Regions from separate parts of the Homo sapiens genome. Here all the other regions are linked to region 3. The links come from fine-mapping of genetic effects on gene expression. A gene starts in region 3. Each other region holds a variant in brackets. All regions are shown on one strand. Distances are from middle to middle. Region 1 overlaps TBC1D9B (TBC1 domain family member 9B). Region 2 has its middle 41 kb from the start of TBC1D9B. Region 3 holds the start of RNF130 (ring finger protein 130). Region 4 overlaps RASGEF1C (RasGEF domain family member 1C).

The links. PIP is the estimated chance that this variant, and not a neighbour inherited with it, causes the effect. A credible set is the group of variants that fine-mapping cannot tell apart.
Region 1: its variant is the best candidate, but not a certain one, in a credible set for the expression of RNF130 in adrenal gland (GTEx, PIP 0.54).
Region 2: its variant is the best candidate, but not a certain one, in a credible set for the expression of RNF130 in testis (GTEx, PIP 0.51).
Region 4: its variant is the best candidate, but not a certain one, in a credible set for the expression of RNF130 in uterus (GTEx, PIP 0.73).

The regions. Positions count from the first base shown.
Region 1 is chr5:179,882,033-179,890,216 of GRCh38, reverse strand. TBC1D9B (TBC1 domain family member 9B) reads left to right here. Exons shown (of 21, transcript NM_015043.4): 7 at 1,905-2,114. Among named protein-coding and RNA genes, the nearest start is that of TBC1D9B, 22 kb to the left of the region's middle. The variant C/T (reference allele first, on the strand shown) is at 3,334.
Region 2 is chr5:179,946,439-179,950,438 of GRCh38, reverse strand. It overlaps a transcript of RNF130 not described here and the pseudogene LOC101060066. Among named protein-coding and RNA genes, the nearest start is that of TBC1D9B, 41 kb to the right of the region's middle. The variant A/G (reference allele first, on the strand shown) is at 1,712.
Region 3 is chr5:180,069,590-180,077,080 of GRCh38, reverse strand. RNF130 (ring finger protein 130) reads left to right here and starts at 5,322. Exons shown (of 9, transcript NM_018434.6): 1 at 5,322-5,625. The coding sequence starts at 5,379. RefSeq lists a silencer at 4,972-5,051 and an enhancer at 4,941-5,648.
Region 4 is chr5:180,136,677-180,144,683 of GRCh38, reverse strand. It overlaps RASGEF1C (RasGEF domain family member 1C), which reads left to right. Exons shown (of 14, transcript NM_175062.4): 2 at 6,626-6,808; 3 at 6,972-7,094. The coding sequence starts at 6,632. Among named protein-coding and RNA genes, the nearest start is that of RASGEF1C, 69 kb to the left of the region's middle. RefSeq lists an enhancer at 7,136-7,635. The variant A/G (reference allele first, on the strand shown) is at 6,185.

The sequences.
Region 1 (8,184 bases), 190 kb after region 3:
GACCCCTCAACACACCTGCTCCTCCACGTTCCAGCCTGCAGGCTTTTGCGCACGCAGCTCACTCTGCTGTGGGTGTAGTGGACTCTTGAATTTCACTCCCAACCACCCGCTTCCATGCTTCCCTCGGGAAGTGACCCCTCTTCCACCCTTTGCCCAGGTAAAAGCCACGTATCGGCCTAGATTCCGACCTCTCCCTCCTCCCTACAGCATGTCTTGCCAGCTCACCCCGCAGAGCTCAGCCCTTCCTCTCCACGGACACCACCTAAGACACCATCATCTGCTTTAGCCACTCCCTAACCACACTGAACCCCAACCCCCGCCTTTTTTTTTTTTTTTTTTTTTTTTGAGACAGGGTCTCACTCTTGCCTGGGCAGGAGTGCAGTGGTGTGATCATGGCTCACTACAGCCTCCATCTCCCGGACTTAAGTGATTCTCCCACCTCAACTTCCCGAGTAGCTGGGACAGCAGATGCTTGCCACCACACCTAGCTGTTTTTTTTAAATTTTTAACAGAGACAGGGATTCATCATGTTGCCCAGGCTGGTCTCAAACTTCAGGATTCAAGTGATCCTCCCTCAGCCGTCCAAAGTGCTGGGATTACAGGCCTGAGCCGCCACACCCGGCCTAACACACTTAGCCCCTTTATGGCGTATCCTCCCACAGCAACCAGCAAAATTCGAAATGTCAGTGGGAGCATGTTGGCACCCTGCTTAGAGTCCTCTAGAGTCTTCTCCCACCTGCCTCCTATGACCTGTGAGACCTTCTGTGCGCCTCTCCCACCTGCCTCCTGTGACCTGTGAGGCCTTCTGTGCGCCTCTCCCCCTCTCAGACCTGCGCCCAGGCACACCCCATGGATATGTTCACACACAGACATAAAAAGTGCACACTCAGACTGGGCGCGGTGGCTCACGCCTGTAATCCCAGCACTTTGGGAGGCTGAGGCGGGTGGGTCACGAGGTCAGGAGATCGAGACCATCCTGGCTAACATGGTGAAACCCGTCTCTACTAAAAATACAAAAAATTAGCCGGGCGTGGTGGTGGGCACCTGTGGTCCCAGCTACTTGGGAGGCTGAGGCAGGAGAATGGCGTGAACCCGGGAGGCAGAGCTTGCAGTGAGCTGAGATCGCACCACTGCACTCCAGCCTGGGCGACAGCGAGACTCCGTCTCAAAAAAAAAAAAAGTGCACACTCACCTCCACCACTGCCCAGCTCACACTGTCCTGGCTTCTCTGGCCTTCTCTTCCTCCCTCAGGCAGTCCTACTCCCCTCTGCAGGGTGACTGCTGTGCCCCCACCCATCTCTTCCCCAGCACTCACCTGGCTGGACCAGGTCTCAGCTCAGTGGCCGCCTCCCCTGGGACCACCCAGCCTTCCCTCTTCCCAGCACTCACCCCTGCTGACTGTGCTCAGCTGGTGCATCCCTCGTCCGTCTCCCTGCCAGGCCTTGGGCTCTGCAGAGGTGCCCACTGAAAGCTTGTCCTGTGCCCTCTACACCTCAGAGGGGTTCAGAGCCAAGCTCCAGGACCCCTGCTGTCAAAAAGTGTTCCCTGGGAACAAGTGCAGGGAACAGTCCTGCAAGCAAGGGACTGCTTGCCCTGCTTTCGGACAGCCTTCTGAGAGCCAGTGAAGGCCAGCAGCTGGGCTGAACACTACATCATCCTCAGAACCACCCTGCACAGCCGGTGTGCTCCCCGCCATCGACAGGAAAAACGGGCCCTTAGAGGCACAGGCAACTTGCTCGGGGTTAGGTGCAGCGGGTGGCAGAGTCAGAATGTGAGGACAGTTGGGCCACTCACTGCATTGTGCCCAGGAGAGGACAGCTGCATGACAGTCTGCCATTCACAAAGCATGCCCAGCTGCAGGGCCTGAGATGCAGACACCCAAAAGAGTTCTTTCACCTTCTCAGGTGACCATTGTCGAAAAAGCTGACAGCTCCAGCGTGCTGCCCAGCCCCCTGTCCATCAGCACCAAAAGCAAAATGACATTCCTGTTTGCCAACCTGAAAGACCGTGATTTCTTGGTGCAGAGGATCTCTGACTTCCTCCAGAAAACACCATCCAAGCAGCCAGGCAGTATCGGGAGCAGGAAAGCCAGTGTTGTGGACCCTAGCACAGAGGTGAGAAGCCCCTTGGGAGCAGCAGGGTCGAGTTGGGCCCAGGAAGAGCCAGGGCATCCATCAGCCTCCCCGCTGGAGCCTGACCCCATGGTTCCGGCTGTGGGCCTCCGCCTAGGGGTGGATGTGTCAGAGCTGGCAAGAGACCCCTAGCCCAGACCCACACTGCCCAGCAACATCACAGCCTCTCTGCACCCCCAGCCACACACCCGGTACTCCTCACTCCTGCTGGGCCCATTGCCCATGAGGAACCTTCTCTGGCTGTCCTTTCTGCATTGCTGCTGCACTCAGAGCAAAGCCACACTGTGGAGGCCTGTACACTTCGGCTTTGTTCCCATGACCTTCCCTGCCAGGCGTTCAGGCTGAAGTTCTTGACGGTAGAACTGCAGTATCACTATTGTACCAGCAAACTTAACAAGAATTCCTTAATATCACCAAATATTGTATTCACACTTCCCCGTGTGCAAGTGTACTTTTCACGGTTTGATTATTTGAACTGAGGCAGACGAAAGTCACACATGTCACTCTTGGTTGATAGGTCTCTTAAATCTGTTTAATCTACGGGCTTCTGCTCCACCTAGCTCTCGTTTATTCTTCCACAATATTTTTTTGAAGGAATCGGTCACTTGTGCCATAGAGTCTCTCATCGTCTGGTTTTGCTGATTGCATCCGCTGCAGGCGTTTAGCAAGCTCCTGTGTCTCTTGTTTAAGTTGGTTGAGCGGTGAGACCGAGAGCCGTGATCACATTCAGGCTCAGCTGATTTTGGTTCTGGCAGGTCCGCCTGTGGGCAGGCTTGAGGTGCTGTTTATTCCCAACAAGAGATGTCTGGCAACCAGCCACCTCTCTATGCTACTGTCAGTCATTGAGAATATGCCTGGATCCAGCGGCCAGTGGCCAGCGGCATGCTCATTCCATTCCTCCTTTCGTCTGGGAGCTGAAATTCTCCCAAAGAGGGAAGCTGACCCCAGGCACAGTTCATAGAGGAAAGGTGGAATACATGTTTTACTCTTTCCTCTTACTCACCAGTTGTCAAAATAATGATGAGTTGGTTTTCTAGTGTCTTCCACATGTGACCAGTGAGTTTTTTGGTTTACTTTTTATTGTAATTATGAACGTATGGATTTAAGCAACTTGATGTGTGTCTTTCCACTGGAATCACTATGCTTATTCTGTCTGTGGCCAGAGGGGCTCATCTGGTCTAGCCCTGAGAGTCCCTGGGCA[C/T]GACACTGGTCGTCTTTGATTCCTTGCTTTCTGGTGTGACAAGATGGATGTGCTGCTGCTGTCGTTGAGTCTGAATTTGCAAAAACATTTGGCCATTAGAAGAGTCCATATGCAAATTCACAGATCCAGCTTCTCTAGAAAAGTCAGTGCCCAGCCCTAAAGGCCCCATCCCATTGGGCAGCGGGCGTGGGAGCTGGGGCTGTGCGTGTCCTCCATGCTCTAGAGCCGTGTGTGGTCTGGCCCAGGCAGACCTTTACATTGTCTGCCCCAGTAATAGATGCTAAATAAATTACTACGTCAGTGAGCGCATGGGAAGGGGTGGGCGGAATCAATGTGGATTGCAGACATGAAGAAAGGTGTGGAGAAGGTTGGGCTTCATCTGGGATTTCAAGAAAGAGTGAAGTTGGATTGAGTGGCAGGGGCAGTGAACAGGGTGGTCGAGCCTCCTCTGCCTCCATGAGGCCCCACACTTCCTGAAAGCTGAGTAAGCACCACTCACGGCCCCTCCCAGGCACTCGGCTTCATGCATCCAAACACATTTTATTGCATTCCTGTTAGGTGCCAGCTGCTATTCTAGGCCCCAGGAGTAGAACAGTGAACACATCGGACAGAGTGCCTGTTCACTTAGAGCTGTATTCCAGTGAGGGAGGCAGTAAGCAAATAAACATACAATATGTCAGGCAGTGATAAGGGCTGTGGGTAGAAATAAAGCAGGATGAGGGGATCAGGAGTGCCAGGGGAAAGAAGGGGGCTCCATTTTCTCTCTGTTGCTCATGGGCAACCTCTCTGATCAGGCAGCACTGGAGGAGAAACTCGAAAGAAGCAGGGGAACTAGCCATAGCCTGTCTGGGGCAGGGTGTTGGAGGCAGAGAGCACAGCAAGCTGGGAGACAGGATTGGATGTGGCACGGGCTTCTGGGACCAGGGCTTAGGAGACTGACCAGGTGTAGGAGGTGAGACCAGAGAGGTGGCAGAAGGCCAAGTCACCGAAAGCCCGTAGGCCCTGTGAGTGCTGCAGCTTTGACTTCAGGTGAGAGGGGAAGCCAGTGAAGAGTCATGACCAGAGGAGGGCACGACCTGTTTACGTGTTAATGGGGTTACTGTGGCCGTCCATGTTGACAGTGGATTAGAGGTGCCCCGTCTAGTACAGCAGCCACGTGTGGCCATGGAGCACTGGAAATCCAGCGGGTGCCAATGGAAATGTGCTGTGAGTGTTCAGATCACTGTACACGGGTTTTGGAGACTTCGTATGAAAAGAAAAACGTAAAATACCTCCATCTTTTTTTTTTTGGGGGGGGGACAGAGTCTTGCTCTGTCACCTAGGCTGGAGTGCAGTGGGGCAGTCTTGGCTCACTGCATCCTCTGCCTCCCAGGTTCAAGTGATTCTCCTGCCTCAGCCTCCCGAGTAGCTGGGATTACAGGCGTCCACCACCACGCCCGGCTTATTTTGTATTTTTAGTAGAGACGGGTTTTTGCCATGTTGGCCAGTCTGGTCTTGAACTCCTGACCTCAGGCGATCCACCTGCCTCAGCCTCCCAAAGTGCTGGGATTACAGGGGTGAGCCACCGTGCCTGGCCACTCCATCATTTTTTAATTGATTCCTGTTGAAATGCGAGTATTTTGGATATATTGGATTAAGTCAAATATATTGTTAAAATTAATCTCAATAATTTACTTTAGGACTTTACAATGTGGCTACTAGAAAATTTACAATTACATTTGTGGCTCTCATCATCTCTCTTGGGCAGTGCTGGACTAGAGAGTGGCAAGAATAGAAGCAAGGAGGCCGGCTGGAGCCCATCACAGAAGCAGGGGCACAAGATGATGGAGTCGAGCATCAAGGGTAGGAACAGTGTAGGTGTAAGAAGGGGTCAGATTCAGGAGACGCTATTGTGATAAAATACACATAACAACATTTACCATTAAGTACATTGACATTGCTATGCCATCACCACCATCCATCCACAGAACTTTTTCAGTTTTGCAAAACTGAAACTCTGAACCCATTAAACAGTAACTCCTCAGCCCCCACTCCCCCAGCCCCTGGCAAGCACCATTCTACCTTTTTGACTTGAATTGAACTATTCTAGGTAATGCACATAAGTGGAAGCATATAGTATTTTCCCTTTTGTGCCTGGCTTATTTCATTCAGCGTGATGTCCTCCAGGTTCATCCCTGTTGTAGCGTGCTCAAGATTTCTTTTTTAAGGCTGAATCATATGCCATTGTATGGATAAGCCACGTTTTGTTCACTGTTGAAACTTGGACTGCTTCCACCTCATGGCTATTATGAGTAACACTGCTGTGAACATGGGTGTACAGATGTCTGTTTGAATCTTTACTTTCAGTTCTTTTGGGGACATACCCTGGAGTGGAATTGCTGGATTGTATAGCAGTTCTATTTTTAATATTTCAAGGAACCTCCGTGCTATGCTCTATCCACCAACTGTGCACCACAGTTGGAGGCCAGACCACCAACTGTGGCATGACTCTGTGCAGACACAGAGCCAGTAGCTGTGCTGAGGCAATGGCGGGAAGGAAGAGGGGCTCTGATAGTCCTAAGAGCCAAGGAATCCAGAAGTCACCAGAATACCCCTCACAAGAGACTACTCAGCAAATGGAAACCTCAACAAGTGAATCTGAGAGACAGCCAGTGAAATTGGGAGCCGATTTCTCAGGCTCCAGTTTATAGAGGAGGCTTTTTTTTATTAATGGAAGCACAAAATCCTGCTTTATTTCTACCCACAGCCTTATCGCTGCCTGACGTATTATACGGCTGAGGAAAGATCAAGAATGTGAGGGAAACCCATGCCCTTAACAAAAACTTCTCTTCTGAAAGACAAGAGCTCACCCCAAGAAAAAAAGGACTGGGATTGAACAGAGCAGGAACACTTGGGGTAAAGGAGAAAAGCTTTAGATACAAGAAAGAGGTGGCCAATCCCAGAAAGTACAGGAGCAAGGACTACACAGACCGACCACAGCAGGGGAAAGGCCTCTCCAGCTGTGGAGTTCAGAAAGCTACTCTGACCCACAACTGCCCGTACGTAGAACATCCTGCTGAAAGAACAGGAAAAGATGCTGATCACACCCTGTACAAAGATATTGCGGGGAGAAAGTGAACCAGATAACCTCCCACAGATAATGAAAGCACACCAGAAAAACATTCCTCCAGGCAGATGAAAACTGTGTCCTGATGTTTCTGAGTGATCTCAAAGGAATTAGAAAAACGACAGAAACTACTAAAGAATGGTATAAATTAAAAATGTTTAAAAAGCTCAGGTTAAAAGTGACTAGTCAACAGAAAAATATGAAGAGAGTTGACAGGACTCAGGAGGAAATAAGAAAAAAAAAACCAGATATTTCTGAAATGAAAATCAGGAACACAAGAATGAAAATACATTAAGGTAAATAAGGAAGAGATAGGAGAAAAATGGAGTCAGAGGAGACTCAAACAAATAGAGAAGAAGTTGTCCAGAGAAGGGATAAAGAAGTTAGGCAAAGAAGATCAAACTTACGTATAATCGTAGTGCCATCCCACACCCTTCCCAGAAAAAAGCAGTGGAATAACAGATAATAGAAACTGTGATTCAGGAAAACTGATAAAATAAGCTTGAACTTGTATAGTGGAAGGACACATTGAATGTCTAGAAAAATCAACACAAAATAGTCGATATTGACATAAAATCTCATAAAACTGTTCAATTTTAAAGATTAAAAAATTATTCCAGGCTGGGCACAGTGGCTCACACCTGTAATCCCAGCACTTTGGGAGGCTGAAGCAGGCAGATCACTTGAGGCCAGAAGTTCAAAACCAGCCTGGCCAACATGGTGAAACTCTGTCTCTACTAAAAATACAAAACTAAGCTAGGTATAGTGGCACATGCCTGGAATCACAGCTACTTGGGAGGCTGAGGCACAAGAATCACTTGAACCCAGGAGGTGGGAGAAGGAGGTTGCAATGGGCCACGATCCTGAGAGATTCCTCCTCAAGAGAGGTATCAGACTTTGTGATACAGTAACAACATTTTAGAGTAACTTTTTGTTGGGGGTTGGGGAGGGTGTCTCCTGGAGTGCAGTGGCACAATCTCGGCTCACTGCAACCTCTGCCTCCCAGGTTCAAGCAGTCTTGTGCCTCAGGCCCGTGAGTAGCTGGGACTACGTGTATGTGCCACCATGCCTGGCTAATTTTTGTATTTTTTGTAGAGATGGGGTTGAGATTTCACCATGTTGGCCAGACTGATCTCGAACTCCTGACCTAGGGTGATCCACCTGCCTCAGCCTCCCAGAGTGCTGAGATTATACAGAGTAACATTTTTAAGATATACAATAAAAGAAGCTGTGACCCAGGGATTTTATACCCAGCCAAACTGACGTTCAGGTATAAAGACCATAGGCTGTAAAGAACATGCAGAGGAGTTCAGGGGCTCTCTCAGCTTCTGTGGAGTCTGCTGGAGAACAGACTCCAGATAACCAAGGAGTGATGGAAGCAGCTTGGGCCTAACGACTGGTGGTAGCATTGATTATATTTAGCTGTGGAATTAAGGTTAGATAGTAGGAATAGAGGTGACAGTATATAAATGTTATAATCTCTGATGATGGAGACATAGTACAATCAAAACCTGAGGTTAGGGAGGTATATGAGGCTGGGCTTGATGGCTCATGCCTGTAATCCCAACACTTTGGGAGGCCGAGGCAGGCGGGTCACCTGAAGTTGGGAGTTTGAGACCAGCCTGGCCAATATGGTGAAACCTCGTCTCTATTAAAAATACAAAAATTAGCCGGGCATGGTGGCACACACCTGTAATCCCAGCTACTTGGGAACCTGAGGCAGGAGAATTGCCTGAGCCCAGGAG
Region 2 (4,000 bases), 120 kb after region 3:
AGTATCAAAATGCAGTTATTTAGGCCGGGTGGGGTGGCTCACACCTGTAATCCCAACACTTTGGGAGGCTGAGGCAAGTGGATCAGTTGAGCCCAGGGATTTGATACCAGCCTGACCAACATGGCAAAACCCCATCTCTACTAAAAATACAAAAATTAGCCAGGCGTGGTGGCAGGTGCCTATAATTCCAGCTACTTGGGAGGCTGAGGCAGGAGAGTCTATTGCTTGAACCCTGGAGGTAGAGGTTGCAGTGAGCTGAGATCATGCCATTTCACTCCATCACCCAGGATGGAGTGAGACTCTATCTCAAGAAAAAAAAAAGTTATTTAATAAGCATGATGCTATCAACTGTCAACCTTAAATAATGAGATTCAGAAAATATCATTAAGTATAGAGTTTGCTCAAGCACAGAGCTGGAGGATGGCCACCCAGGAAAACAGCTTCAAACAAATGGGGTCAGTGTTCCACTCTGGAGAAGTTAAAGTATCATATAGGCAGAGACAGAAGTTTTAGCAAGATTATACCATTTTCCACGTGAGGCTAGTGAGTATGTTACAGTGATCCGATTGATTACAGATTGCTCCTTGAGGAGGGGTGGTGATCTGAGGGGTCTCATCTCTGGTCTTAATTATTTACAGCATTTCTGAAAGGCAGAAGTTGCAGCTGCGTGCCAAGCGACGCAGGCTGCAGAGCCACATTCCTCTGAAGTCTCAGGATAACTTAAAGTTACAACAGCTTTGAGTTATTTAATTTCACACAACTAAGAAGTCAGATTTACAAATAGAAGCAATGTATAAAGTTGAATAATTTTTGTTTACTATTTAAAAAATTCGAGATTAAAATTTAATCTGGTATTTCAGAGTTTTAAACCCTTCTTGGACAAACTTTTGTAATGCAAGAGACAGGTTGTTTTGTCTTTGTTTTTTCTTTCTTTTTTTTTTAAAGTATTTTTCTAGAGTATTTTCAGCCTGGGCAACATAGCAAGACCCCATCTCTACAAAAAAATTAAAAATTAGCTGGACATGGTGGCTTGTTCTTATAAGCCCTAGCTACTCAGGAGGCAGGAAGATTACTTGAGCCCAAGAGTTCAAGGATATAGTGAGCTATGGTTGCAACACTGCACTCCAGCCTGGGCATCACAGCAAGACCTTGTCTTAAAAAAAAAAAAAAATTGTCTGGGCACGGTGGCTCATGCCTGTAATCCCTGCAACTTTGGGAGGCCAAGGCAGGCAGATCACCTGAGGTCAGGAGTTCGAGATCAGCCTGGCCAACATGGCGAAACCCCATCTCTACTAAAATACAAAAATTAGCCGGGCGTGGTGGCACATGCCTGTAATCCCAGCTACTCAGGAGGCTGAGGCAGGAGAATCCCTTGAACCCGGGAGGCAGAGGTTGCAGTGAGCTGAGATGGTACCGTTGCATTCCAGCCTGGGTGACAGAGCGAGACTCCATCTCAAAAAAAAAAAAAAAAAAAAAATTATTCCAAGGAAGCATTGGCCAGGTTGGTCAGAAGTTGATAAGAACGTCACCTGAAGACCCTCCACGGGAAAGCAAGTGCCCCTGATTCTACCCAGCAGCTTAAGGCAGTCTTAGCCTGATAAGTCCATTAAATCACATTTCTCATTGGCTAGCTAGGTTGTCACTTTAGACTTTAAAAATAATTGGTAAAAGATCCTGAAGCTTCCTTGACTTTTTATCTTCCAAATTATTT[A/G]GTTATGCCAAGTTCCTTATCAAGACTCTTTTTTTCTCTCTCTCTCTTTTTTTGAGACAGAGTCTCGCTCTATCTATCATCCAGGCTGGAATGCAGTGGCGTGATCTCGGCTCACTGCGACCTCCACCTCCTGGGTTCAAGCAATTCTTCTGCCTCAGCCTCCTGAGTAGCTGGGATTACAGGCGCCTGCCACCATGCCTGGCTAATTTTTGTATTTTTAGTAGAGATGGGGGTTTCACCATGTTGGCTAGGCTTGTCTCAAACTCCTGACCTCAGGTGATCCGCTCGCCTCAGCCTCCCAAAGTGCTGGGATTACAGGCATGAGCCAATGCACCAGGCCAAGAGCAACAAACAGAACAAAGAATAGAGTCCCGGTGAAACAGAGACCACCATTCCAGGTCTGCCATGAAGCTGGGCAGGAAGAAACTGTTAACTGTTGCCAGGGGCTCCTGATCACTTAGGGTGTACCAGGTAGCATGCTGAGTTGTTCACATGTATAACCATTTTAATCTTCGCAATATCTGAATGAGAGAAGATATAGTTGGTTTTCTGTTTTACAAGTGAAGAAAACTGATGGTTCAAAAGGTTCAAGTTTCTTGCCCAAGTTCACTCACCTGCTAAGGGGCAAAGTCAGAATGAGACCCAGGCAGCCCAGAGTCAATGCTCCCAACTACTTTATACCCTCCAGCCTGGAGACAGTTAGACCAGGACCTACTATGTGCACAGCCTGCACCCTAGAGCAATTCAGAGTCTCAGGGTGAAAACGGGGGAAGTGAATGGAGGTAGCTATTTGAGGGCTGAGCTACACAAACACATACACACCCATATTCTTACATGCATATATGGTCTGTGTATATAGATATACTGTATGTATAATATATAATAGCATATTGTGTAGGTATATATATACCATATGCAGTATATATATGCTATATCAATGTATACCTACTATATACTTACATATACACACATATACTTTTGTTTGATAATAGTGTACAATAATAATAGCTAACACATACAGTGCTTAACTGCATGCTAGGTCCTCTTTGAAGCATTTTGCTGCATTAACTCATTAAATCCTTGCAACAACCCTCTTATTAACTCCGTTTTACAGATGAGGAAACAGGCTTGGAGAAATCCAGTAACTTGCCAAGGTTGCCCTGCTGGTAAGTAGCAGAGGCTGGATTTCAACACATAAGCTGGCCCCCAGGGTCTGTGTTCCAAACCCCATTCTATTTGCCTCTTAGAGAAGCTCACCAAGTGTCAGGGGCAGGCTGTGGGGTGTCCTGACCAGTGGCCCCTAGTGTGCAGAGCATGATAGTAGAAAAGGCCAGGAAGTGTGCTGGGCTTGATTTAGGACACAGGTGGGGTGGGTGAGAGACGTGTCCTAGGGCTGGATGGTGATGTTACAGGGCACGGACTTTACTGTGGGCAGCAGTCAGGAGGCCCATGCATTTTGGAAGGTGGCATCTGAATGCAGACTGGTCCTGAAAATAATAAAATAGTGGGGTTACTAAAGATAGAATTGCTAGTTTAAACTGTTTTAATGTAGAAACTGCCTCACCAAACCAGGAGGCAAGAATGGTGAAGACAGTTGTGTCAGTGATGAGAAGATTCTAGAAACCCAGGTATGGAGACTTCCGTGAAGAATTCATTCAGTACAGTAGGGTTGCGTCAGTGTGCACTTGTGCACACTCAACAGTGCATCCTCAGGGAGAGAGGTGTTGAGATCCTGTAAGGAGAGTACTTTATTTGCCAAGGAGTTGAAAAAACAGGTAGAAATAACGGGAGCTAGGGTGGCAACCGGCCCTGAGATCAGCCCGAGGCTAAAGAAAGATAAAGGCAAACCCAGCTGATGAAAAGATCCCCTATGGTGCTGGGCGCGGTGGCTGACGTCTGTAATCCCAGCACTTTGGGAGGCCGAGGCTGGTGGATCACGAGGTCAGGAGATCGAGACCATCCTGGCTAACACGGTGAAGCCCCGTCTCTACTAAAAATACAAAAAAATTAGCCGGGCGTGGTGGCGGGCGCCTGTAGTCCCAGCTACTCGGGAGGCTGAGGCAGGAGAATGGCGTGAACCCGGGAGGCGGAGCTTGCAGTGAGCCAAGATCACACCACTGCACTCCAGCCTGGGCGACAGAGCGAGACTCCGTCTCAAAAAAAAAAAAAAAAATCCCCGGTGGGTGTGCTGTACTGGTCGGTCTGTTAAGACTAAGAAGAACGCTAGTACATTTGTAGAAATTATCCACTTTCTTTACTCTTGTTTCTTTACCTTAAAGTTTTTTTTAT
Region 3 (7,491 bases):
AGAAGCATCTCTTGTGTGGTTGATGTCTCCATAGAGCCCTTCACCTACAGCATCTGTGAGGACTTTAGGGTCTATAAGGAACACAGCCTCCCTGGACAGCCTGCTCCATGGAGTTGGACTGGGTTTCTGCAGGGCTTTTACCTGCAGCCACAGCTGGGGGTGGGGTTTCATAATTACCAACAGTGGAAGCCGCCAGCATAGATGGAGACTTACAAGGGGCAGGAGCAGGAGGTGGGCGTGGGGAGGGAAGACACAGATAAAAGAGGCTCAGGTGGGGAGGAAGGGGGCAGCTTGAAAATATGGCGCCAGTGCCTACCAACACGAAATACATGCCTGCACATGACACAGCATCCCACTCCGAAGGACACTCTCAGAGATGCAGACACATCCCCACCGAGAGGCATGCAGGCTTCATAACGGCTTGATCCATCACATTCACAAACGAAAATCAATATGAATGCCCATCCACAGGAAAATGGATAAATCAACAGTGGAACACTATACAGCAAATAAAAAGAGCAAACTATACCTACACACACAAAAACACGAAATCTCACAGACATAGGTTAAGAAAAAGAAACGACACCAAAGATTCCATATTGTATGATTCTATTTATATTATATAAAGTTCAACAACAGGCAAACTAATCAATGGTAACAGAAAGCAGGATAGTAGCTGGGTATGGTGGTGCACACCTGTAGTCTCAGCTACTCGGGAGGATGAGGTGGGAGCATTGCTGAGTCCAGGAGTTCAAGCCTGCAGGAAGCCATGATTGCATCACTGCGCTCCCGCCTGGGTGACAGACTAAGACCCTGTCTCTAAAGAAAGAAGAAAAGAAATCAGAATGGTGGGGTGCTCACGACGGAGCAGCTCAGGGAAGCTTTCAGGAGTGCTAGTAATGTTCTCCATCTTCATCTAGATAATGGGTAAAGGGTGTTTCCGCCTCATAAAAGACGTTTTGAGTTGTAAACATAAAATTTTTGCACTTTATGTATGTTATGTTGCAATATAAAAAAGCAATAAATGTATGAAAGAAGTAAAAAAAAAACACAATATAGTGCTGGGTGAAGAGGATCAGAAACAGAATGACATCAATAACCCAATACAGTTTAATAATTAAAAAGCACAGGCACATTAAGCAACAACACACATTTTGCAAGAACACAAACAAAAGAGACGCATGAGGCACACTAAAATGGTTCCCTATGGGTCAAGGAATGGGAGTGAGAAATAGTGATAAAAGGGAGCATGTTAATAATGAAACAAGAGCAGGGCCTTCCTAGGACCAGTGGGGATTATGTGCCATTCAAGAAAGAAAAGGAAGAGGAGGAGAAAGAGGAGTTGGACTTTGGGAAATCTGGGCAACCCCCTGGGGTTTGTAGCACTGTTCAGGGGACCCCCGCTTGGTCTCTGATTGCTGGCATCCCAAACTCTGTGCAGCATGCTTTACACACACCCATTACCCTGTCTGCTGTCCTGGGAGGGCAGACATTGCTCACAGGGGAGACAGATCTCCTCCTGAAGGACTGAAGCTCTTACGGGGCCTGGATGTGGGAGGCTGGCAGCTCGGGCCCCACTGGAGTTCTGGGGAGAAGGGGATTTTGAGCTGGGGCTTACAGGTGACCTAGGATTTATTGTAGGCTGAGAAATGGACACAGAGGCAGGGGAATATGGTGCGTGGTGGAGTCAGGGAAATAACCCCATTAAGGAAAAAGGTTCGTGGGCAGCTCATTCACAGGCCAGCGTGGGCCAGAGCCAGACTGCGGCACACATCCTCCGTGAGACCTGCCATGTCCGATAAAACCACTCGTACTTTTATTTAACCAATACTTTTAATTCACTTTTTTCTTAAATGTTTTAAAAGATAGCATCGTGTAAAGATATACACATGGCCAATAAGCACATGAAAAGATGTTCAGCACCACTAATCATTAGGGAAATGCAAATCAAAACCATAATGAGAGACCACCTAATACCCATTTAGATGGCTACTATTTTGAAAAAGAAGTAGAGAAGTGTTGGCAAGGATGAGAAGAAACTGGAACCCTTGTGCAGTTGGTGGGAATGTAAAATGGGGCAGCTACTATTAAAAAAACAGTAGGGCAGTTCCTGAAAAAAATTAAGCATAGAATTACCATTAGATCTGGTAATTCCACTTCTGAGTATATACACAAAAGAATTGAAAGCAGGAAGGGATATTTATACGCCCAATGTTCATAGCATCATTATTCACAATAGCCAAACAGTAGAGGCAACCAAGTGTCCTATGATGAATGGATAAACAAAGTGTATTATATACATACAGTGGAATGGATGAATGGCTAAAAAAAAACTTGGAATATACATACAATGTGATATGATTCAGCCTTAGCAAAGGAGGAAATCTGATACGTACTTCAACAGAGGTGAACCTCAAGGACATCGTGCAAAGCAAGATAAGCTACTCACAAAAGGACAAATACTATATGATTCCACTTATGCGGGTAAGTAGAATCATCAAAATCATAGAGACAGAAAAGAAGAATGGTAGTTGGGGAAGGGGGAACGTTTAATGGGTGCAGAGTTTCAGTTTTACAAGATGGAAAGAGTTCTGGAGATGGATGGCAAAGGTTACACAACGATGTGAATGTACTTAATGCCACTGATCCATATGCTTAAAAATGGTTAAGATGGACAATTTTATGTTATGTGTATTTTACCATAATATTTTAAAAGGTAGCGTTGTATCACTATTATAAATGAAAAACTTCTTGTCTCCCTAAGGTCTCCTTAAAACCTTGAGGTTTCCTTAAAAGACAATGCCACTCCCAAGTACAGGCTGGTGTGAATGTTGCCGTACATGCTGGTGCGTGATGAGGCTGTGCACCGAGACCTCATCTTGCTTTATTTAAAGGGGAGATCAGCAAGTGCCAGGGAAGTGTTAAAGGTGCTCTGGAACCAATTTTCTCCTTGACAAATTCAGAAGGGTTGAGAAAGCCACTTCCTCCCCACCTGATTAACAAAGTGGTGCTTGTGAGCTTCTATAATTGTTTCTTGTGCCAGGGGTCATGGGCACCTTACAGTTTGAAGACTCCTCCTTTATAAGGACAAAGGAGTAGAGGCCATGAGCCTCTTGGGCAGGGGTAGGCCAGGGCATGCCCAGCAAGAAGAGCAGGAGACCGTCACCGGGAAGAGCCCTACACAGGCCCTAGATGTGGCCCTGGGCTGTGGGGAGAAGGAATTTCTGGGTCTTAGGTGCTAGAGCATGGGTACCTTGGTGCTAAGGACTCCTTGCCCTATGAAGGGTCCAGCTGGAGGGGACCAGATTAGAGCACTCTTTAGGTGCCAGGCCCAGGGCGAGGACCCCGCTGCTTTGGCCTAGGGTCTGTACTTGCCGAGGATAAGTAAATAAGTAAAAGCCGTTCTCCATAGGCCAGGGCACGGTTTATAAGGACTATGGTAGAGGATGGAAGAGAGGGAAATGGAGGGAGAAATTGTAAAGGATGTCTGCCAAGTCATCAATAGTGGACATCTGTTTTCTTTCTTTTTTCTTTTTCTGAGACGGAGTCTTGCTCTGTCGCCCAGGCTGGAGTGCAGTGGCTCGATCTCTGCTCACTGCAACCTCCGCTTCCCGGGTTCCAACGATTCTCCTGCCTCAGCCTCCCGAGTAGCTGGGACTACAGGCACGCATCACCACGACTAATTTTTTTATTTTTAGTAGAGACGGGGTTTCACCATGTTGGCCAAGCTGGTCTCGAACTCCTGACCTCGTGATCCGCCCACCTAGGCCTCCCAAAGTGCTGCGATTACGGGCGTGAGCCACCGCGCCTGGCCAGTGGTGGGCATCTTAAGTTTTAGCCTGCACTGCATCCGTACCCTTTCCTGGAAACAGTGCCTCAAATTTCTTTTTGGGGAGCCACCTCTTTTCCGGATTTTCAGAACATTTGGTTGTGCAAAGCTGACTCCACCCACTTCCCGCAGTAGGAGACAGGAGACTCAACCCTGGCTGGTCAGAAGACGCCAAACTTTCCCCCTCCGCCTCCCCACAAAGATCCTGTAAGTTCCTGAATTCGGCTGCACTGCCCCATTCTTCCTTTTAGCTGATACTTTATAGCGATGTGTATCTTTTAAACGCCATGGAGAGAGAAAATGAGAGTCGTGTGTGTGTGCGCGCGCGCGCGTTTCGGAAGGTGGAGGGGGGGTTCCCACTGCAACCCTCTGGTCCGGGGGCCCCTGGAGTAGTTCACCTAGTCACTAGAGCAGGGGCTCCCCAACCGCCCGGCCGCGGACCTGTACCGGCCCAGGGCCTTCGAGGAACCAGTAAGCGAGCAGGAGGTGAGTGAGCATCACCGCCTGAGCTCCGCCTCCTGTCAGATCAGGGCGGCATTAGACTCTCATAGCAACGTGAACCCGGCTGTGAACTGCGCATGCTTGGGACCTAGGTTGCCCACTTCTTACGAGAATCTAACGCCTGATGATCTGAGGTGGAGCAGCCTCATCCGGAAACCACTTCAACTCCCTCAGTCCCTGGAAAAACTCTCTTCCTGGAAACCCGTCCCCCAGTGCCAAAATGGTTAGGGACGGCTACCCTAGAGGTCTTTCCCAACCACTCGTGTCCCTGCAGGTCCGGGCCAGAGACATCCCCCATCCATGATGTCAACCGCATGACGTGAATGTTAAATCTCATGACATTTAATTTTAAACATTTCTTTTAAAGTTATGGCTTTTTTTCCTTTGTAGTCTGTTCTCACACATTTCCATACGTCCTCGCAAATCTCCCGGGCTCCACGCCCTGCGGCTATCACGCCTGACAGAGAAACAACCAGCACCAGCGGCTGACCCGGCTGCCCGGGCCCTCGTGCAGGCGGGCGGGAGCGGACAGGCCCTGGCACGCATGCGCTCGGGGCGGGACTGCGCCTTAGGCCTGCGCGTTGCCGCTAGACCAGCGGGGGGGCGGGGCGGCGGCGGACACGCGCCTCAGGCGGCAGCCGCGCGAGAGGGACTTTGTGTTCCGCTGACCCTCCTCGGGGCGCTTCCTCCCGTGCCGCCCTTCCCCTCCCCCGCCGCGTCCTTGCGAGGCGCCTCCCATTCGGTGGGACCGACCCGGGGGGATGGAGGGGGCACGCTTCTACAACCCTCCTGGGACCCCGAAGAGACGCCCGCGTGCGACCTGAGACGCCGCCCTCGCCGAGGGCCCATGGGCGCGTCCCCACAGGCGGGCAGTGGACGTGAGGGCGGCGAGCGGCGGGGCCGCGGCGTCCAGGAGGGCCGCGCTCGGGCTCGGCCCCGCGCAGGCCGCGCGCGCGCGCTCCCGCCGCCGCCCGGGCCGCGCCCGCCCCGCCTCTAGGCGCCGGCCCCGGAGCCCGGTCCGCGAGCAGCGGCGGCTGCCGGAGGGACGATGAGCTGCGCGGGGCGGGCGGGCCCTGCCCGGCTCGCCGCGCTCGCCCTGCTGACCTGCAGCCTGTGGCCGGCACGGGCAGACAACGCGAGCCAGGAGTACTACACGGCGCTCATCAACGTGACGGTGCAGGAGCCCGGCCGCGGCGCCCCGCTCACGTTTCGCATCGACCGCGGGCGCTACGGGCTTGACTCCCCCAAGGCCGAGGTCCGCGGCCAGGTGCTGGCGCCGCTGCCCCTCCACGGAGGTGAGTGCCGGCCCGGGGGCGGCGGGCGGTGGTCGCTGCATCCCGCGTAGGCGGCGGGACTAGGGTTCCCGGCCCCGGCTCTGGCCCTGGCTCTCCCGCGCTGCCCGGCCGACAGCCCCAGCCAGGGTCGAGGCTTCCGTCGTGGACAGCCCGGCCTGCTCCCGTGGGAACCAGGCTCCAGGAGCGTGACTGGGTTTTTCCCTTCTTTTAAAAAAGACTTGGAACGGTCATCTTTGCGTTCAGGCAGCTCGTTTGCTGGAGGGCATTGAGCTAGGAGTTTGCAGGGACAGCGTAGACAAAGGAGGTGGTGCAAGAGCGCAAAACTACTTCATGGGGAGGACGTCTCAGCCTGTATTTTGGAAGCGGCAGGTTCCTCAAATCACGGACTTAAGGCTGCGCTAGATCTGGAAGGATGCGGCCCTTTTCTAATATAAAAACGTGCCGTTTTTCTTAAGTGGTAAATTGGGGGGGGGGTGTAAATGGAAAATGGACATCTTCCCTGTTGCTTTTGGCTCTTGTTCTTGCCCTAGTAGTTTTACTGTAATTTGACGCCTGAAAATGTCACATTATGAGGATCTGACACTAATCGGAACTACTAGCCAAGGCTTTTCAGGTCACGGGTGCCGACCAAAAGGGAAATAGGTAAAATTTTCAAGAATTGTCTTTGAAACCATTCGGCTTAATGTCATGTTTTCCTATGAACAAGGACTTTGTTTAGTTGATTATTTGGTGTAAACATGTATTTGTTTAAATTATTAGTCATGGTTTGAAAGAAACCTTTTGCACATCGTGGAATATGATTTTTTGGGTTTTGGCCCACGCTGAACTTTTGGGAGATATCTGCCATTATCCCCACCCTCATTGTCACCCTGAGAATGCTGAGAGGGGATTTTTCTTTTCTAAACTGCTGTTCATGTTAGGATGACCTAAAGTAGGCAACCTAAATAAAGTCATGATTTGCTTGTACACTCTTAAGATACTAACATATTATGCCCCTCTGAGGTCTGTATTTGTATGCCAAAGTGCTAAGCTGTTTTCTTCTTTGAGACAGTCTGGCTGGGGAAAAATAATCACATAAGGCTTTTACTGTAGCCTGTCCGCAACTCAGACTAGGCTTTGAAAAGTCCGTTTTACACCAGTAATCAGGTGCTTAAGGTGCATATCTCATCTCTACTGTGTTAAAAATGGCAGTTAGGGTCCCAGCTTGGCCGTAGAAACAACTTTTGTCTTGGGTTCATTCAGTAAATATTTGCGTTCCTGCTCTGTGCCAGTCACTGTGGTTGAGATGCACAGTGTTGCCAGACTGGCAACTAACAATGGTAGCCTCTTTTCTGGTGGAGAGAACCGTGAGGGTCACGTGGAAGGGTAGAAAGAGGAAGGGGAGGCAAGCTGTTGTGGAGCAAGAGCTGGTCCTCTGCAGTGTTGTGAAATCTGTGGTTTGTCTTTGAGGCTTGGTTCCATCAGGCACCCCAAATCCATGGTCTGAACTTCAGATCCTTCCTCCACGGTGTTCGTGTGCTTCAGCTACTTGTTGCTTGCCTGTCACCCCAAACAAAAGCCCCGTCTTTGAGAAAGCTTGTTTTAGGTGTTTCTGTAGAAGGGTATTGGAAACTAACTCATGTGTATTGAGGTATGGATGAAGATTAGTCCTGTTCCCCTCTCAGTGGGGAGGCAGCATTGTAGGATTAAAGGTTCTGAGTCAGGCCTGTGCTTTACGTCCATTGTGTGACACTGTAAAAGTAACTCTGCCATTTAGCCTGTTTGCTCATCTGTAAAATGGAATGATGAAATGTACATCTCTTAAGGTTGTTGACAGGTTTAAACGGTTCCTTAATTCTGAAAAGAGGAGATTTGTTAACCTAGAGG
Region 4 (8,007 bases), 67 kb before region 3:
TAAATTTATGTTAAGTATATTTTTTTAATTTTTATTTTTTTGGTAGAGGCAGGGTCTTGCTCTGTCACCCAGGCTGGAGTGCAGTGGTGCAGTCACAGCTCACTGCAGCCTTGAATTCCTGGGCTCAAGCAATCCTCCCATCTCAGCCTCCCAAGTAGCTCGGACTACAGGTGTGTGACATTACGTCAACCTAATTTTTAAAAACTTTTTCTAGAGATGAGGGTCTCACTGTGTTGCCCAGGCTGGTCTCAAACTCTTGAGAATGTGTAAATGTGTAAAATTCTGCACATATTCAAGCAAGGGCAGAAAGGGCTCTGATTTGGGGCCGTGGACCCACCACAGCCTTTGAGGCTAAAGCAGTGGGACCATTTCCAGCAGCTGTTGGGACGTGGTTTCAGCTGCAGGGCTGGATGGGCAGGTAGAGGGTCGCCCCAGCTGCAGCCAGCACAGAAGCCATGGGGAACCATGGCGGTGCAGTTGGCAAGTCTTTTTGGCACACACAGAGCCTTGGTTAACAGCAGTTGCTGCCTGTGTTGTGGTCTGGCCCTAGCAGGTGGCGAGCTCCCCGTGGCGAGTGCTGGCCTTGGGGGTCCTTTCTCCACAGCAGGCACTGTGCGAGGTACTTCGTGCACCAGTCTCCATAACCTGAAGAGGGGGACTGCTCCCTCTTCTCAGAGCTCACAGGTGTCTTCCTGAGACACGCGCGTGGTCCTCACAGGGGCCTTCGGGAGCCTTCTTTACCTCTGTCCCTTCTGCCACACCTGGCCCAGGGAGAACATCCCTCCAGCCCCCAGGACGCGCTCTGACCAGCCACCTGCTTTTCTTCTGCAAGTTCGATGGATTTCCATTTTGCAGATGTTTAATGCCAGCCACCCATGCTGAGGGATGTGGGGACCCCAGCAGGAACAGGGTCTGTAAACTGACCACCTTGGCACTACAGATGTCATTTCTAACTGTGCTTTAACTCACTGTGTGGCCCCATCAGTGGCTTTTTAAAAAAATAGAATTAATTGCCACCCTTACAATCACAATATGAAACGTAAGTCAGGAGTCCTGGATGTCCTGGATGACTTTTACACCAGGAAGGTCTGAGCACGCCAGCTCCCAGAGCACAGCAGAGCTTGTGGGTTTTCACTGGTACAGCCGGCCCACCTTCTGCCAGCCCCACGCTGAGGAGGAACAGCAGGGCCCTTGGGCACGTTTTCAACTGGCTGGGGGCAGGTGACCATTACCTCTTTCCAGCACCCACTGGAATAGCAGGAGAATGCACATCCATCTTCAGGGCTGGCCTTCCTTATAAACGCACCACATGGTGCCCCTGTCCCTGCACACATTTCCCGTCTCCCATAGAGGGGTTGGGCTGGGGCCATGCTGTCCCAGAAACTTTGCCAGCGCCAGCGGCCTGGAGCAGGGTGGGCCCTGAGCCTGTCAGTGAGGCCTCCAGAAGGAAGGATGCCCAGCTGGGTGCTGGCAGGCATCAGAGTGCCCCCCTGCAGGGTGGCACGTGGGATCCTGTCCCCTGTCTGCCTGTCTCTCTGCAGACCTGACCCCACACAATCCTCGCCTGCTGTCTCTTGAACTGCTGCAGGAGCCCCAGGACCTCCAGGTGCAGGGCCTGGAGACACACACAAGGAGAGATGCCTGAGGGGCTGGGGGCCAGGCAGTGGGACAGGAGCCATGGAGAGGGAAACCGAGGCAGAAGCTCATGCCTCAGCCACTTGGGGCTGTGTGCCAGAGCCAGGCATTTCCTCTCAGTGTCCTGTCAGTGCCCTTGCCACAGCGGGGGCACGTGCCCCCAGCCTCACCATTCCAGGCCTGGAATCAGTTCAGGTGTTCCCAGAGCCATCCTCTGATGAGTGGACTTCAGCTTGGACGAATGACTCTAAAACGATGGGGTGCGAGGAGGGCACAGCAGCGACTCATTTCTCAGGGCCTCACTGCAGTCTTCATCCACGTGAATGTCATTCCCACCATCCGCACCTTTCTCTCCTGCTGTTTTCCCCTCCTTGTGCCACACTGTTTTCTGTGTTATGACCGTGTGTTCAGAACCATCACTGCAGCGGCCACAGCCACTCCGCCAGTGCGTCTGTGCACCTCCCCGTCCATGCTCCCTTTGTTTGCCATCTGTGCTGCTCGAGAGTGTTCGCTGCTGGGATTTAATGCTGAAGCAAGGGCCTTTCTTTCCACAGCTTGTCCCCTTTATTTTCTCAGGATACATTTCCAAGGCTTTGATTAGGATGAAAGGACGCTATAGAACATAACGCTCTTGGTACATTGAGCCAAATCTTGGTACAATTAAAGGGACCATGACAACGCATACCACCCCTCCCCGCAGTGGTGTGTAAGGGGCTGCCCTTGCATGCCTGCCAGCACTGGGCATTTAATTAAGTCTCATTCATTTCATGGGTAGGAAGCGGAACCCCACGGGAGCAGCCACACCGTGCATATATCTAGTTCACACACACCGAGCCCCACGTCCCAACGAGGCAGACAGAGGGAGAAATGGAAAGGTCTCTCTACAGGGTACGAGCAGAACGTTCCCCATCCATGCTGAGCCCCTCATGCTGACAGCCCATCTATGCAGCCCCCAAGACTCCCAGCCCCTTTGTCACGTGCATCATTCAGGCCACGTGCACAAAACACAGATGGGAGACTTAACAGTGATTTCAAGACTTCTGAGAGATATTGTAACAATAAACAATTGTCCCATCATCACTGCCTTTTTTAAAAAGTGTGATATGAGGTCAGGAGATCGAGACCATCCTGGCTAACATGGTGAAACCCCGTCTCTACCAAAAATACAAAAATTAGCTGAGTGTGGTGGTGGGCACCTGTAATCCCAGCTACTTGGGAGGCTGAGGCACGAGAATCCCTTGAACCTGGGAGGTGGAGACTGCAGTGAGCAAAGATCGTGCCACTACACTCCAGCCTGGTGAGACTCTGTTTAAAAAAAAAAAAAAAAAAGTGTGATAAAATACACATAACATAAAATGTATCATTTTAACCCTTTTTAAGTGACAGTTCAGTGACATTAAGTACCTTCATATCGTGGTGGAACTGTCACCTCCATCCCTCTCCAGAAATCTTTTCTTCTTCACAAGTGACACTCTGTTCTCCTGTCCCACCCCCAGCCCCTGGCACTCGCCGTCCCACCGTCTGCCTCTGTGAACGTGATGACTGTAGGTGCCTCCACAAGTGGGGTCACTCAGTGTTTGTGCTTCTGTGTCAGGCTCATTTCACTTAGCATGACGTCCTCAAGGTCATCCGTGTTGCCGCAGGCTCAGAACCTCCTTCCTCTCTGAGGCTGACTCCTGCCCCACTGTGTGGAGAGGCGTTTTCTCCATCCATTCGTCACTGATGGACGCTTGGGCTGCTGCCTCATTTCTTTTTAAAAATTATTTGTGGACATCCAAACAATGGAATATTGTGAGGCAATTTTTATAAAAATGAATGAGGCAGCCCTGCCCTGCCATGGAAAGGTCCTCAAAACGCATTGTTAGTGAAGAAAGCCCAGTGCGGGGGAGTGTGGACAGTATGCTACCTTTTTGTGTAATACAGACAGAAAAGGGGTTATGTGTTTACATGTCCTTGTCTTTGCGTAAAGAAGCTACAGAAAGACTAGAAACTAATAAAAGCGTCACTTACAGGTGGAGCGAGGGACCCTCGTTACATGGCTGTTTTTGCACACAAGGAACGTGATGCTCTGATCACTCTGCACACTCCCTGACCCCAACTCAGTCACTCCCCACTACACTTCCAGGAGCCACTGCCTGGCTCCTGACACCTAAGCATATACTCCCATGATCACACCACGTTGCCCCCCGCTCCGCCGAGCCTCTGCACATGCTGGTCAGTCTGTCTGGCATGTCTCTCTGCCGATTGCATCCTGCCGTCAGCCCTCAGTGCAGCCACCCTCACCCAGCCCATTCCAGGCAGGCTGGAGCTCCTGCTGGAGGGAGGAGGAGCTGGCTGTCCCTGGCGGATGGAGGAGCAGCAGTGTCCTCTGTGTCCCCAGCTGTCCTCATGCAGAGGCCAGAGGTGGGCACCTGGCCTGTCTGCACCAGCACGCCTGCAGGGAGGGGTGGGAGTGGTGGGGGAGCCCGCTGGTAGCAGCAGCTCTGACCTCACCTTCTCTTAGGGGCCAGGACATCCACCGCAGTGAGCACAGAGAGTGGTCACCCCCTTTCCCTCACAGCACGCCTCCCGTGGGGCAGTCTCTGCACAGCTCTGCCTCCCTTACCAGCTCCCTGAGGTCGGGCTTTGTCCCCATTGCCTGGAATGGAGCCAGGAGTCACCCCATGCATACACGCATGAATGGATGACCCTTGGCAACCACAGGAAAAAACTGAAGGCTGCGGCACAAGGATAAGCCCATTCATTGAGACCCAGACCTGGACCCAGCTGGTGATACGATGGGTGATTGGAGGTCGGAGGACCACTGGCAGCCCAGCCCCTCTCTGGGCATCCCTGTGGGTCACAATAGTTCAGCAACCACCACCACCCCTGGCTCCAGCGAGAGCTAGTCGCTCCAGAGCAGAGCTGGATCTGAACACTGCTCCCACCTCCCATGTGCCCAGCACCTGGGTCCAGGCCAGGCCCCAGGTCCCCTGGGAGCCTCCTGGCTGTCTCTTTAAAGTGGCAGCCTCCTGGCCTCCTTCAGAAAGGCCCCTGCATGGCACCTCCCACCATCCTGCAGAGGCTTCCAGAGCCACCTCCACCCTTGCCACTGGCTTGTCAAGAAAATGGGGCTGGGATCTGGGGCAGGCCCAGCGTTGCAGGGTGAACAGGTGCCAGGTGTCCAGCAGGAGACAACGGACCTCCCAGGCTCACAGGTTTTCTATCTTGTGGAATCAGGCTGAGCTGCCGGGCCCTGGGCAGGAGGCAGAGCAGCGTGCACCCTGCAGCCGGCCCATCCCGCAGCTGTCCCCCTCCCACTGAGCATGTGCAGCTTCCTGCATGCCCACCTGCTCAGCCGCCTCCCCCTGGGACAGACAGGAGGTGATTTTGTGAAATTTTACGGTTTCATTGGCTGAAAATTGAACACTTACAGCATTGTCAGGGAGGCGAAAATAAGCTGTCTGTCACCATGGCCAGGACTGTCTGGGCTGCTGTCCACACCAATGCCTGAGCCCTTCCCATGCTGTAACCCAGTCCCAGCACCTCCCACACCCACATGGCCACGGGACAGCCCTCTGAGGGGCTCCCTCTGATCCCCAGTGTCAGCTCTGACCCACCACGTCCCTCTGTCTCTACTCCCAGGGCAGGGTCACTCAGAGTGCTGCAAAGGAGAAATAGGCCAGGGTCAGGGTTTGCCATCGGGGCAGCAAGGACGGCATGAGCAGGGGAGCCTCAGAGTCCATAGAAGACCCTGCAGTGAGCTGGCAGGACTCCACGATCAAGAATGTAGGGGCTGTCTAAACAGTCACAGGTTTAGCCAGGATGCGTCACTGTGAGGGCTCCTGGGCTTTCAAGGAAGACTGGCCTAGAGGGGTAAGTGGAAGAGCTTCTGAGAGTAAGCATGGGCTCCCTGCAGGTGGGTATGGACACCTGCTGCTGCCAGGCCCGTCACTCAGAGCAGGGTCACAGAGGATGTGCTCTGGCCTCTGCCTGGAGGTTTGGGTAGAGAAGACACTGTAACGGCTGCAGCTGGCCTTTCCCTGTGCCAGGTACTGACAGCAGCACCCAGGCACCCAACAAGGCTGACAAGCAGAATCTGCTGATGCCCACCAGAGGTCAGGTGCAGCCTTGGTGGGACGCAGGGAAGGCTTCACCGAGGACGAGGCATTTCAGCCATACCTGGAGGGATAGGGGAGTGAAGATGGTGGGAGAGCCTTCCTGCAGGAGGGAACGGCATGTGCAGTGGTTCAGAGTTGGAGAAGGCATTTGGAGGAGAGAACGTGGCTGGTGCCAAGAGCAATGGGGTGTGATAGGCGGTGAGGATGGACAGGTCAGCTAGTCCAAATCACAAAGAGCCCAGAATGCCAGGTTAAGGAGGACAGCAGTTTTGACTGTACCTGAGAGAACCCCAACTTAAAGAGGCACATGTGATGGAGAAGTCCATGGAGCAGCTTCTGTGCTCAGCACAGCGACACTGTGCTCAGGAATGTGCCCACTTTCCTGCCACAATGGCCCCAGTAGCGTCGGGCATACATTCCACCAGCTCAAGGACTCCAGGGGGAAAGAA[A/G]GCCTCCAAGTGCCACATAAGTTCTGGGATTGCAGCTGAGCCCCCCTAATTTGGATGGGGCCAATCCCTGAACCAATCTTTGTGGCCAGAAGCAGGGGGATTAGGCTGATTATCCAGGCTTGTGAAAAACAACCTTCGTGGAGGGGTGCCGGGGGGAAGAATCTAGAAGAGGCCTGCCCCTGAGTGGGGCAAGAGGAGTAGACAAGAGATGGGTCCTGCAGGAGAGTTGAGAGGCCATGAGAAGACGGAGAATGAAGGCTGTGCTGTGAGGAAGGGGCCCTGACAATACTCCCAGGAAGTGACCACTGGACTCAAGCTGGCACAAAGTGGCTGTGGGGGGAGCCTGCCCAGCCAGGAGCCCCGGGACCAGCAGCTCCCACTCAGGTGCACCCAACTCAGGTGTGCCCCCACTCAGGTCCTCACTGCTCCTTGCCATTGCAGGCAGACATGCCACAGACGCTGAGTGCCTCCGACATGGTCACCCCAGGCAGCCTCAGCCCACCCCCCACCGAGCCCACAGATGGCGAACAGGCTGGGCAGCCCCTCCTGGATGGAGCGCCATCCTCAGCCTCCCTGGAAACACTGATCCAGCACCTGGTGCCCACAGCCGACTACTACCCCGAGGTGGGTGATCCACCCAGCGGGCAGGAGAGTGGGCTCTCCTCCACCACGCACGGGGGGCATCAGGGTTGGGCGTGACCTTGGGCCAGGGTACAGGGCCAGCTGGGAAGCATGCCCCTCCTGGTGCCCTCCTGAGCCTGTGCCCTCTTTCTCGTGTGTCCCCCAGAAAGCCTACATCTTCACCTTCCTGCTGAGCTCTCGCCTCTTCATCGAGCCCCGGGAGCTCCTGGCCCGGGTCTGCCACCTGTGCATCGAGCAGCAGCAGCTGGACAAGCCGGTGCTGGACAAGGTGAGGCGGAGGGCAGGCCAGGGGGTCTCAGAGTGTACCAGCACTGCCCTGCCATGCCCTCAACGCATCAGCCTCTCGGGGAGGCAATGATTGTCCCCGTTTTCCTGACAAGGTGGCTACCGGGTGTTTCCACCTTGTCTGAGGCCCAGAGCCAGAAGGAGCAGAACAGGACCTTTAACCTCCATGTAGTTTTCCAGTGCCCGACGGGAACCCTTGAGCCCATTAAGCCCAGACCTGAGTATCCGGAGCCCGGTCAGTAGGACCCATCTGTGGCCGGGAGGGCCTGCTGCCTCTGGTGGGCTTCCTTCCCCCAGCACATCCGCTCCACCTTCCCAGTCCTGGCCGGGTCCTGCGGGCTGCCTCTATTGCACACGCGTCGGTAGGGCTCTACCGCTAGTGGGAGAGACCCAACTTCAACCCGCCTGAACCAAAAGGACTTAGCTGGCCCGTGTACCTGCCCTATCTCAGGGACCGCTGGCTCGGGCCTCACACCACAGCACTGCACCGTGGCCTGTCTCCCTCCCGCCCTCTGCTGCCGCTTCCCGGGGCTGGCCTCCCTCGGGCTGGCTGGTGTGGCGCTTGGCCGCCTCCACCGCACCAGGCTCACCTACCACCCTTTCCGGTCACGTGGAAGCCTCAATTCCTTTTCTCTACTGGCCCAGTGAGTCTCCTCATTGGCGTATCCTAGGTCACGTGGCCACCTGTGAGCCAATCACTGTGCACGATGGCGTATGCCTGCTCTGATTGGTCGGCACAGACCTAGACCCACCCCTGGGGCAGGGTCCCCTGCTCTGAGGACTCCCCACTCCCCGCAGCGCGAAGACTCACCAGGGAGGATGGAGCCGTCAACCGCAGAAAGGCCAGAGCAAGAGATGGCCCTGCCCAGAAATGTGTCCGTCCCCCCTCCTCTCCC